3 separate regions of the Homo sapiens genome follow, and regions 1 and 3 are each reported to be linked to region 2. Evidence: microRNA targets listed by miRTarBase, many of them from high-throughput screens and not tested one by one. Region 2 holds a microRNA gene; each other region holds the end of a gene's coding sequence.

Region 1 (4,161 bases), not on the chromosome of region 2:
AGAGGGAAGCTGTGAGGGCTGTTGGCAGGGTTGTGGGGGTGGGGGTAGCGGCTGGAGAGTTCAGCATGGCTCTCCAGCCAGCGTGGCCAGGGCGTGCACTCTGCAGCATGGGTCTTGGAGCATGGGCCACTCTGCCAGTGAGGTGGCTGCCCTACATCAGATGCGCAGGCTCACAGCACAACTGTCAGACCCTCAGGTCCCCACCCAGGGTTTTGCAACCACAACGGGATGAGGCCAGGACTGAAAGAAAGATTTGTTAGCACTCGCTCAGGGAGAGGCAGCCATCCCCCCGAACTGCATTTCCCAGTGACCTCTGACACCAACTCCAGCTGTGGCCAGCAGGCTCCCTGCAGCCAAGTCCCTGGCAAGCCAGGTGGCCACCACAGTGGGGAAGGAGACAGCCCTTGGGGACTGGCTTATGTCTTTTACTTCACAGACAGCTTTAAACTGTTATGGAAAAACATTTTATTACACATATTCAACTTGCTTCCAATGAAATGATTAATTTTTCTATATAATTTTCATGTATAATGGCGTCCAATGTTTGTCTTCCGTTTTTTTTCCTTTCAAAACCAGCCCCAAAAAGTAAAACAAAAATTCCATGGGTACAGTATGTAATGCAAGTTAACGAATGGAAAATAGATACATTTGACTCTGAAACGAAAAAAGGACAATCGTATTGCCATAGAGGCTCTTTTCCTGCATTCTGATCCTATCCAGCAACGGTCAGCTGAGAGGGTTTAATTTTGCACCAATAAAAATAGCACCGTAGGGTCGTGAGACTCTGGTAACACGTGCGTTAGTGACACGTGTGCAAGCACAAAGGTACAGTACTCGAGGGACAGTACAGGGTATTAACACAGAAACATCACTGCTGTGATCAGCATCTAGTGGAACAAGAATGTTTATGATGGTTTCACTGAAATCACTGCTCGTGCCATGAACAGAAGGTAGGCTGGTGGATTTCAAGATAAGCTAAAAGGCCGGGCGCGGTGGCTCACTCCTGTAATCCCAGCACTTTGGAAGGCTGAGGCGGGTGGATCATGAGGTCAGGAGATCGAGACCATCCTGGCTAACATGGTGAAACCCCGTCTCTAGTAAAAATACAAAAAAGTAGGTGGGCGTGGTGGTGGGCGCCTGTAGTCCCAGCTACTGGGGAGGGTGAGGCAGAAGAATGGCCTGAACCCGGGAGGCGGAGCTTTCAATGAGCTGAGATCGCGCCACTGCACTCCAGCCTGGGCAACAGAGGGAGACTCTGTCTCAAAAAACAACACCGACAACAAAAAGATGAGCTAAAAGAGCTCTGCAGATGCAGACTTTAGGGGAACTAATGGGGGTATCTGACAATAACCCAATCAATCCTTTTCATTCTGAGGGTGTGGGGCCCTTGCCAGGGTGACAGTGGGCATATCTGGAGGCCCCGGGGCCCATGCAGGAGACCAAGCTAAGGCTTCCTTAGTGAGCTTGCCCGGCTCTGCTCCTTGGCTGCAAAAGTCTAAATGTCTTTCAGTGAATTAACAGTTCATTTGGGGATGAAGAAAATTGAACCTCAGCGCCCCCAAAATTTTGAGGGCTTTGTGAAAATGGGAATTCATGGGAGTCTGCTGGTGGCCAGGCCTGAAGGGGAGGACAGCAGTCTGCGCAGGCCGCGGGGCGAGGGTGGGCCGCTCCATCCTGACACCCTCGGTTCTTTCCACAGAGCACCCACGGAAGTTTCTCAACACTTCTCGTTGATTCAAGTGGAAGTGAGTAAATTCCCTGACATCCCTACCGCTTCTCTGCCTCTAGGGTAGTAAAAACAAAAACACAGCTCGTAAGACAGGGTGGAGAAGGCAGAGAGGCTTCTTTCTGATTTAAGCTAACTCTACGGTTGTGACATGTAACAAAACAAAACACAGAAACACAGCACCAATAAATCAAGAAGCACAGGGAGATGATCCCATGGAAGTCCAAGTGAGACCTTCCGTCTGAAATCAGGGAGGAGGTGTTATTTACGGTAAAGTCCTAGAACATAAGCACCCATGAAATGCCCACCAAGTTGGTGAGCAAAACAGGCCTCCTGGCATCTAGGGTCCCTGCCCGGCCTCCTTGCAGGTAGGGTGCTACCATCCTCTGTGCTCTCAAAGAGGCCACTCTGCTTGTCTGCTGCCAGGCGTAAGGGGGCTGCAGGGGGGAAGGACCTTCCTTCATCATGCATCATCCTTGCCCCACCAAGAAGATGGGTCAATGATGACAGGCGTGATGATAATGGGTACCACAAAGTCTGGGGCTACAGGAAGGCTCGGCGGGTGTGCAGCAGTGCCAGCCAGATGGCGTTCCTCCCCTGGTCCTGGCACATCAGGCTGCTCCGTGCCAGGATAGAGCAGTCAGGCCTTGCTCTACAGATCCTAGGCCTGGGCTTGTGTCCTCAGAGGTCCCAAATGTCGTCTTACCTTCAGATAAATGGCCACGGTCGGTAGAAAGCCACTGGGATGTGGTACAGCATCTCTAAGGTACAAAGCTTTAGGAAGTGCAGGCCAGAGTGGATGTTCCCGGAAGGCGGGGCAGGTGCCCATCCGCCCCAGTGAAGCTGGCCCAAGCTTACCTTTGCCTTAGGAAGCAACCCCATCACCGCAATTACCGTTTCTTATGTCACAGCACCTTGAAGAGAGGCCCTTCTGTTTCCCTACACGGTGGACAGCAGAGCTCTGAAAATTAGATGCTTCCCCAAACCCAGACTCTCTTGGAACATTCTTCCCATGCGGGTGGTATGAACTGCGTGGCACTGCTGTCCTCGCTGGCATATATAGATTTACACTCCACGCACGAGACTTCCAAGGCAACACCTAGGATTTAGAGACTATGTTCTCAGAGACGGGCATGGAGGCAACGTCCTGGTTCTCATGTGGTCAAGAAGGTAGATGGAGAGAAACGTGTGCTAAGCAGCCCGGCCCTCCCCAGAGAAGCCACGGGCAGAGGCTCACCAACACCTGCCCCTCCCTCCATGGTGTCGCCGGCTTTCAGAATAAAGCCTTTTCTAGCATGTCTCGTTTTGGGGATGTTTCCTCCATGATATACCAAGCACTGGAAATTCAAATGTCAAAAGCGAGTCAAGACAAGAACACTAAATGATGTCTCTCTCTTGACGGTTGTCTGCCAGAGGTGCTTCCCTTCGAGGTACCTGAAATCCTAGAAATTGAAGTTACTTTGTGACTCATGCCTACTTTCTCCTCACTGTAGAAAGCCAGCCAGTGGCTGTTAACAATATATTAAGTACGGAAGCACTAATGGCAAACGCCAAGTCCACGCTCATGTTCTATGTAGTTGGATTCTTGTGGCAGCCGGGTGGGGGCGTGGCCACAAGGCTGGTAGGCTTGCGGGTGGGTGGGTTTCAGACCTGAGTCTGAGCTTTGAGCGACCCTTGGGACTGCGTGTCACGAGTTCGGCGGTGGCTGGCGCATCTTGTTTGCATAGAAGTCCCTGCAGGTCTGGCAGCAGCGCTGGTACCACCGCATGTCCTGGCAGAGGTTCTTTTCTCGGATGACCCGGCAATATACCGTCCACTGGTCTCGTGTGCATTTGTAGGTCAGAGCAGCTAAGGGGATAGGAGAGAGAATACCCAGGGTCAGGGATGGCCTAGGCATGTCCTGATGCAGGCACAGGGAGGGCTTGTGGTCTGACCGTCTGGGCTCCCTCACCCTCGTGCACACGTCAACCCTTTGCACTGATTAGGCCATGCCTCCTGCCAGGGCACTGGGGGTGCCACTTTCTGTCACAGGGATGCACCTTTGCATCCAAACCCAACCACATGACAGAGTGTGGTGGTCTGGCTGCCTCTTCAGGGAAGAGGGCACAGGCCACCTTGCTTCCGAGCTAAGTGGCACTTACTATTTTGTGGCCAAGGGTACCATTACTGTAGGCATTTATAAAACAGGACAACATGGAACAGTGGACATCAAAGGACCCCAAAAAGCATGAGGTCCAAGTACATACAAGTGGCCCAAATATCCTTCAGGGTCTTGATTGTACAGAGAGAAGGCCCTGCTCAAGGGAGGTCCTGAAGTTCCCAAGCAGGCCGGTGCTTGAAAAGACACAACTATACTTCTGCCAGCTCAAAGGCCTCCCCCGGAACAAAGATACTAGAAATCCCCTTCATTTTGGTGAGTTTCCAGCCTCAGGTAG
Region 2 (4,000 bases):
CAATTTCCAATCCTGTACCAGACTGACTACAGAAGTTCTGTGTGGCCTTACGCAACACCTTTCCTCTTCTGAGCCTCAGTTTTGTCATTACTAAAAAATGGATCTTTCTAGCTCTGCAGCATATAGTTCTATGGTTTAATTCAATGAGGCTGGATGGATGAGTGGGTAGGTGGATAGATGAATGGGTGCAGGATGGGTTGGGGGAGGGATGGTGGATGGATGGGTGGGTGGATGGTGGGTGGATAGGTAGATGGGTGGCTGGGTGGGTGGGTAGATGGATAGATGGAGCCTTTCTGCTCTCTCCAGCTCCACCTGCAGCTCTGTAGTCCAAGGTAAGGCCAGTCAGCACCACAGACAGCACCATTACCACGGACTTAGCTTTCATTCACCCCAGGTACCAAGAAAGGGGAGCCTGTTCTGAGTCAGGCCTCCTCTGAAGCCAGGGTTGGGGCTCAGCCGTGGGCTAGATCTGCATTTCTGCACTTATCTGGGGAGAGGAGAGGGTCTGGACTAAATTACTTCTAACTCGTTCTTAAAGCCTAAGATTCTATGAAACCAGAGACCTTGGTCTTATCCCCTTTGGAGCCACAAGCACAAGACCAACGCCCTTCCTGAGGGTTGGGGTCGCTGCCATAAGATCTTTCCTGTTTCATCTTCATGAGTCTCTATGCCTTTCCCCATCTCCACAGGTCCTCCTATGGCTCACCCCACTGCCTGGCACTGGCTCCATGCCTCCTTCTCTGGAAGGAAGCCTCACAGTGCCCCTCACACTGGCCTACAGGAAGGCAATAACATCAAACTCAAGAGTCAAGTACCTCCCAAGGTCCGGCTGTGCTCTTGGGACTGTCCGTTCACACTGATTCATGCAACTCTGCTTGTGTTAGGTCCTCTGTGAGGCCCTCCTCTCTCTCTGGGCCTTGGTGTCCCCTTCTGTAAAGGGAAGGGTCCTTCTAGATCCCCCAGGACCTCGGAGCCCTCTCATTCTCTGTCCATCATCCCTTCCCTTCCTTTCGGGTGGACCTCCCTGCCTTCCTCCCTGCCTCCCCCGGCCGACGTCCACCTCTGTCCCAGGCTGCACTCCTGTTCCTCTCCAGGAGTCTTGACGTCTTTTCCCACCTCCGCGTCCTCTCTTCCTCTCATAGCTTCTCCTCCCACTCTCCATCTCTCTCCTGCATACTTCCTGCCCCCACCTACTCCTGTGTCTCCAGCCCACTCCTCCCACAAACCTCCAAATAGTCACCTTGAGAACACTGGGAGAAAGCACCTAACTCAAGAGAAGCGCCCACAGAATGGGAAACCCAGGAAGGCAGCTAGAGGGGAAACAGGGGGTGCCAGGCAAGTGTCATCTACGCCTCTTTTGCTTCCTGCCTCCTGTTCCGGTGGGCAATATACACAGCCTCTTATCTTCCCAGAGGACAGGGCCCTTCAAGAGCACAGGAGAACGTATCGACCTCTGTGCCTAGCATGGGTCTGGCACTAGCAAGCACAGCCGCCCAGTCAGGGTGACTGGCAGAACTGCCCCAAAGGAGGCATCCTGTAGGCTCAGACCAGAGAAGCCCGCTTCAGCTGAGCCTCGGCCCCTGGCCTCAGCCCAGCACCCAAGCTGACTCTATGCCTCCTCGCAGCCTTACAGCACCCCCAGCCTGCAGAGTCAGAGACAAGAAAGCAGAACAAGGCGGTTCCTCCTCCTTCCTCCCCACACACCCACGCCTGCCACCTGGCCAAGGAGACGCCTCTCAAAGACACTGGTGCCTTGGATGTGCAAAGAGGAACTGCCTGTGAGTGCGAAGATCTTGCAGCCCCAGACTTCTCTCAATGAGGCTGAGCTGGATCAGGGTGAGGAGAATAGAGGAAAGAGGCTTGGCAACCCTTGGGAGGCTTAGTCTGAAGGAGGAGGCAAGACAGAGACCCAGAACGCAGCTGAACTAGCCCAACTGTCAGTGTCATGCTTGAGTGAGGCATCAGGCTTTGGGGAGGGGAAGGTACCTTTCCCAAGCACCTCCTGTGGCTAGAGGTTTCCACCAGCCGTTCCCCAATTTTCATGTGCACCAGAACCACCCAGAGTGCTTGTTAAAGTGCAGATTGCTGGCCCCACCCCCAGGGTTTCTGATACAGTAGGTCTGGGACGAGGTCCAAGAACTTGCGTTTCCAAACATTCCTAGATGACACTGATGCTGCTGGTCGGGGGACCACACCTCGAGACCCACTGACACTATCTTGGATCCTCCTACAAGCCCAAGAGGTGCCTGTTTGGGTCATCCCATTGTACAGGTGAAGAGGCTAAGGACTGGAGGGGAGGGGCCTTGCTCAGGTGAGAACAGCCAATGAGGGGACGCCCCAGGGAAGGTCCCAATGGAGGGGAGAGGCTGGGGGTGGAAGGACAGAGGGAGACTAGTGGTGGGGAGATATGGATAACAAGGCAGTATGGACGGGGCCACTCGCAGCGCAGGAGCCCAGTCTTAAAGGAGGGACCTGCCAGAGACCTTTCCTCCTCCCTCTTTCTCTTCCTCCCCTCCCTCCTCTACTTACCCCCTCCCGCTCCATGCCCCCATCCCTCCACCCTCCTGCCCACCCTTCGCAGACTCCGGCTTCAGTTGTTACTCCAACAGGGCCGCGTCTCCAGCCTCCGAGCCACACTGGAGACACGTGCACTGTAGAATACACCTGAGCCAGTCCCAGTGCCTCCCAAGGGTGTCCCCATCCACAGGAGCCTGACCCCACACTGTTGGCTCCTCCCTTCCAGCGCCCACAACCAGCTCCGCCCCGGCCTCTCGCCCTTCCCAAGCCAGTCCCAGCTTCTATTCCAGCTCCTGCCTCCTCCAAAATGACCTCCCGGTTGTCCCCCGCACCCTTGGATCCATCAGGAGCTAGGTTTGGGGGTGGATGAAGGAATGGGAAGAGGGAAAGAGCAGGAGAAGGCAGGCAAGAGTTGCCTGCACGATCAGTTCCCTGAGGGCCTGACTCACTGGAATCACCTCAGTCCCTCACCCAGAGTCTGGAGTCAGGAAAGGAGGGAACAGTCAGAGTGGGTAGAGGGAGGGAGGCAGGAGCTGAGTGTGGGGAGGGGGAGGATGGCCCTGCAAGGCAGACATCAGATCAAGCGGGGCAGAGCCAGCTCAGGTCTCCTCCCACCCCCTCCCACCTTCAGCTGCTTCATCTACAGGGAAGAACCGAGAGTGGTCCCATTTCTGCTGCCCACATTCTCCTGGACACCACAAACTTCCTCCCAAACACATCACAGCATCCCCCTCTCCATGCCATCACAGTCATCCTGGTCACCTGGCATTCTAGCTATCCTTGTCCTCTGGCCTGGGGCCCACGAGGCAGCTCGCGGCAGTCACAAGGAGGCAGATTTGGGCACACTGTGAATCAGAGTCGCGCCACAAAAGAGAGCCTGAGCAGGATGGATGAGGGGGCTCCTAGTCCCCAAGGGTGTGCAAGCAAGGGCCAAGGCCCTGCCACCAGGGAGCCTGTGCCCTGAGAAAGGCCCCTGGTGAGGTGGCAGGCCTCCAGCTCTGAGTTTGGTGACCCTGAATGTCTGTACACCCTCCTCAGCCTCACCCCCTCAGGGTGGGTTGGGAGCTGAGCAAAGCAAGTCCAGGAGCCTCCAAGAGGCAGGCATGGTGGCTCAAGCAGGAGAGGAGGAGGACGCTGAGTGTCCCGCTGGGTCAGTGTCAGAAGAGAGTTTACATCCCTCAGGAAATGATGGCCAAAGGAATAATTGAATGGGTGGATGGATGAATGACGAATGAATGAATGGAGTGATCTCCCTTCTCTGGATCCCCTCCAGGGAGAGTCTGTTGTTGTTCTCTCTCCAGGCAAGTCTGACCCTCCCACCTGGGGCTCCCACTGCCCCCCTTTCCCCCACCATGGCATGCACTGTGTGCATCAATGCAGTGCCACCCTTTCCCGTCTGGCTCCCACAACAGACTGGGAGCTTTTGGAGGGCAGAGATTGTGTCCTGCCCCTCTCCAGGTCTCCAGCATTACCCAGCCCCTCA
Region 3 (4,161 bases), not on the chromosome of region 2:
TTTGCCACTTCCATCCAAGAAAAGGAGAATGATTTCTCCAATGATAACTGTATTCCTGGATCATAGCTCTCTTATTCAACACTTCTTAGCTTCTCCAATAAAAGCTCCTTCTCTGCAATTTACCTGGTATGGTGGAGAAAAAATTACACATACACACACTTTTCCTTAGAGGGTAGTGAACAAGATTCATATTACAGCTGGAATAATTGAGTTATTAAATACTCCTGGAGGCAAGAGACTGACTGTTTGATAACCTTTATCCTTGAGAAGAATTAAGCTGAGACAGAGCATGGAGGTGTAATATTTTTAGAGAGGGCAGCATTTGTGAAGAGTCAATTCCTTCCCCAAAGCCACAGGTGGGGGCAGCAAGAGAAAGTCTTACTAGGTTTTTTAAAATTTAACTTTTTATTGAAGTATAATACACACAAGACATATATTAAGGGCATAGCTCTAACAATTATCACTAGTGAACAAAAACTGTGTAGCCAGTACCCCGCTATAGAGAGGATGCACCTGACAGCAGTAACAACCATATCCTGAGAACGACCCTGTGATCTAAAACGAATGTGTGCTCAGAATCCCAAACTAAGGAAACAGGAGCGACTAACCCTGAGTTTCACTCCTTATCTATGAAGGACGTCTGAACCCCCAGCCCATCCCTTACAACACAGGCAATATAGGGGATCAAGGTCCTTTGCTTTGGGTTAAATGGAGGTTGCTAGGTGGAGTGTGCTAAATGAAAATGCTATATAAACTGCATGCTTTTTACAAACAGTAGTGGTTCTTCTGTCCAGCCTACTACCACTGGACCATCCCTATATATAAGTTCCCCCAATAAACCCAAGTCTTGTTCGCTGTCTACGCATCTTCTTTGGACTCTCGGACACAGTGCCATTACTATTGGAGTCACTAGGGGTCTGGCATGACACCAGCATTGCTAGCTTCCTAGAATCTTCTTCTGGTCACTACTCTTCTGCCCTACAAGTATACCATTAATCCTGCTTCTAAGAACATAGATTCATTTTGCCTGTTTAGGGACTTTATGTGCATTAGTTGTACAATATGTGCTCTTTTGTGTTTGGCATCTTTATTTCAACATTATGTTTGCAGGATTTGTCCATAGTGCTATGCTCATTCTCACTGCAAAAAGGATTCCATTGTGTTAATATCCCACAATTTATCCACTCTACTATTAATGAACATTTGGGTAGTTTCCAGTTGGAGCTATTAACAAATTATGGTGGACACAGGTATGCATTTCTGATTAATATATTCCTAGGACTGAAATGACTGGGTCATAGAGTATGCAAACTTCTAGCTTTAGCAATTACTAACTTTTCCAAGTGCTTGTACCAGTATACACTCAACAGTATATGAAAGTTCTATTTGCTCACAACTGCACCAACATTTGCTTCTCTTTTAATTCCCAACGTCACTCCACCTGATCTATTTTATTTTAACCATTATAGTGAAAGTGGTGTGGCATTGTGGTTTTAATTTGCATTTCCTTGACAATAAAAGAAGTTGGATGCCTTTTCAAATGTATATTAGCCATTTGGATCTCCTCTTTTTCTCCTATTCAAGACTATTGCCTCCCTTTCTTTTAGGTGTGTTTTTCTTACTGATTTTTTTTTTGCATTTGTTTTCTTTGCAAATGAGGATAAACAGTTTATCAAGTTATGTAGTCATTTTTTGTCAATTGCCAAATAAATGACATATCAGTATCAGACATATATATATATACATATATATGTCTGCAGCTAGTTCTTACTGAATGATTGCAATGTCTTTTCTTCATTAATTGTTTTGTTTTATTTTGAATGCTTACAATGTAAAAGGGACAAGATACATATCCTTTAACCCTGTATCTACTTTATCATTTAGTTTTATTATCTAAGACATTTTACACTGAAGAAACAACAGCAAGTAAAGCTTACACAATTTCTCATGTCACATATCAAGTTAGTATAAAAAACTGACTGAAAGGATTCCAAAAATCTGTGCCTAACCATACTCCCATATCTTCTCTATTGATCTACTCATCTTCTATCAATATGTAATTACATTAACCTCATCTATGTCATATAAAGCACATCTATCCCATCTATTTTAATTCTATGTATTGAAGTCACCAAATTTGTATTACCAGCCATGACATGACCCCTGATCTGCAGAATACTTTGTATCTCCAATTGGAGGTTTAGTAGATGTCTAAAACTCAGCATCATTCCCTTCACCTAAAGTTTTTTCTCCTCATCCTCCCCAGGTTAGTAAACGACACCATCATCTACCAGTTCTAAAGTTAACAAAAAAGCTGCCATCCTCAGAGCTTGCAGTGAGCCGAGATCGCGCCACTGCACTCCAGCCTGGGCGACAGAAGGAGACTCCGTCTCAAAAAAAAAAAAAAAAAAGCTGCCATCCTTTTTTCTTTCACTTTCTAGTTTACTCTCATCAGCAAGCCTTATCAATAATACTACCTTCGAATGATCTTCCAATGCAATCATTTCTGATCATTTCTACTTCTCACACATGCAGGTCCAAGGCATCATTGTCCCTTGCCTAACTACAATAGTGTCCTAATTGCTTATTTTTATTTTTTGAGGAATAACATATATACAGTAAACTATAAAAACGTGAAGCATATAGATATATGAATTACGTATGTATCAAGTGTCAAGATAAAGAAAACTCAGCATTCCTAAAGCTTCCCCATGTCACTTCTCAAACATCCTAAAAAGAAAAAGAAAAAAAAATCCTTTCTTTCTACAGAGGTACGTACTACTCTACCTTTAATCACCATAGACAAGTTTTTACTGCTTTTGAACTTTAGAATTGAATCATACAGTTTGTACTCATTTCTACCTAATTTCAGTCAACATGTTGAGATTGGTCCATACTGTTTCACATAGCAAGTGTGCCTTATTTTCTATTATTATGCAGTATCCGATTGTATGATTATATCACGAATTTTAGCATTTTCGAAATTCAGATCATTTCCAGGCTTTGGCTATTAAGAAGTAGCAACTAACCTTATTACACGTTTTTTTTCTTCCTTGCTTAGTAGAAAAACAGGCTCTTTAACATTTTTAATAAATCTCTCACAAACTGCTGCTCCTAGATTACAAAAAGTCAAAGCCAATTCCTTGAATCTGAACTTCAAGTCACCATAATAGAAACCGGAGCTGCTGTACCTTACATTCTGAAAGGTACCTCAACAAAAGCACATCAAGGACTGTTTAAAACTTCTAGTATTTAAAAAGATCCATCTTTCCTTCCAATGCCTATGGATGATAACAATAAAAGGAGAACCTTAAGAGATCTGCTATTGAGTTTGAGAAGGCCAAATTTAATGATTCCAAACTCCAGCCTTAAATATTTCTGTAGAGACTCTGAGAAATTACCTCTCCCTTGTCTCCACTCCCACTGGCTTCCTCAAGCGCAGATGCCTGGGACCCTGTATGATTAGTCAAACAGTCTTACCAGTACCATCATTATGCTTCTCTAAAGGGCTACTAGTGAAAGAAGCTGCTTTAATTTATTTTAGTTTTTGCCAATCTTCAGTCCTTAGAAAAGTCTTAATTATTTAAAAAAAAAAAGGGTTGGGGAGGTGGTTAACTGTTCTAAGGCATTCAACAAGAGGAAACAGGTACCTTTTATGAAAAGGACTTTCAAGTTAAGTCCACAGTTTAACTGAAATAACTTTACAAGAACGTCTCCACATAAAACTCTTAACACCTTACCCCTGGCAGCCGGATGGATGCGATCTATATACAACACGTCTCTTAAAATGCTCTCACAGAAACGGTAATAAGATACTCTTAACTTCCTTAAGTCAAATCCACATTCGGCCGCGCTGCCACCTGCAGAATTAGCTGAAGGGGAAACAATAAAGGTCCTGCCGGACAGCCATGAGCAGCCCTGGTGCTGCTCCCCGGATGCCCCCGAGCCGAGAAGCGAAGGCCACGCTGGGAATGTCGTCCTCGGAGGCAGAGTACGGGGAAGGGATGGTTCTGAGCAGGTGGGCATCATGGAGGCTCCAGATTCTCGTGTAGCAGTCCTGGCCCACTGCCACCACGATTCCCTCTTCCTCGTGCACATGCAGGGGCAGATAGGCGGACTCATTCACGTGACCTTCGTACTGCCTTACACATTTAGTGGCCC

What was found. The annotated mature microRNA hsa-miR-139-5p reads UCUACAGUGCACGUGUCUCCAGU and lies in region 2 at 2,636-2,658, opposite strand. An mRNA with a match to its seed (bases 2 to 7 or 8) in the 3' UTR can be bound and repressed. Matches are read on the target gene's strand: a 7mer-m8 pairs with bases 2 to 8, a 7mer-A1 pairs with bases 2 to 7 and ends in A, and an 8mer does both.
Region 1: the mRNA of ADAMTS17 is a reported target of hsa-miR-139-5p. Seed matches in the 3' UTR shown: 7mer-A1 at 2,378-2,384.
Region 3: miRTarBase lists DCAF4L1 as a target of hsa-miR-139-5p. Seed matches in the 3' UTR shown: 7mer-A1 at 2,763-2,769.

The regions. Positions count from the first base shown.
Region 1 is chr15:99,970,989-99,975,149 of GRCh38, forward strand. ADAMTS17 (ADAM metallopeptidase with thrombospondin type 1 motif 17) reads right to left here. Exons shown (of 22, transcript NM_139057.4): 22 at 449-3,574. The coding sequence ends at 3,414. Among named protein-coding and RNA genes, the nearest start is that of LYSMD4, 240 kb to the left of the region's middle.
Region 2 is chr11:72,612,467-72,616,466 of GRCh38, forward strand. MIR139 (microRNA 139) reads right to left here and starts at 2,664; the gene lies at 2,597-2,664. The region is part of intron 2 of PDE2A (phosphodiesterase 2A); the gene reads right to left. LOC105369377 (a long non-coding RNA gene) reads left to right here. Exons shown (of 4, transcript XR_001748292.2): 2 at 1,626-1,836; 3 at 2,163-2,271. RefSeq lists an enhancer at 1,572-1,671.
Region 3 is chr4:41,982,691-41,986,851 of GRCh38, reverse strand. DCAF4L1 (DDB1 and CUL4 associated factor 4 like 1) reads right to left here. Exons shown (of 1, transcript NM_001029955.4): 1 at 387-4,161. The coding sequence ends at 3,869. Among named protein-coding and RNA genes, the nearest start is that of DCAF4L1, 3.0 kb to the right of the region's middle. RefSeq lists an enhancer at 3,834-4,161.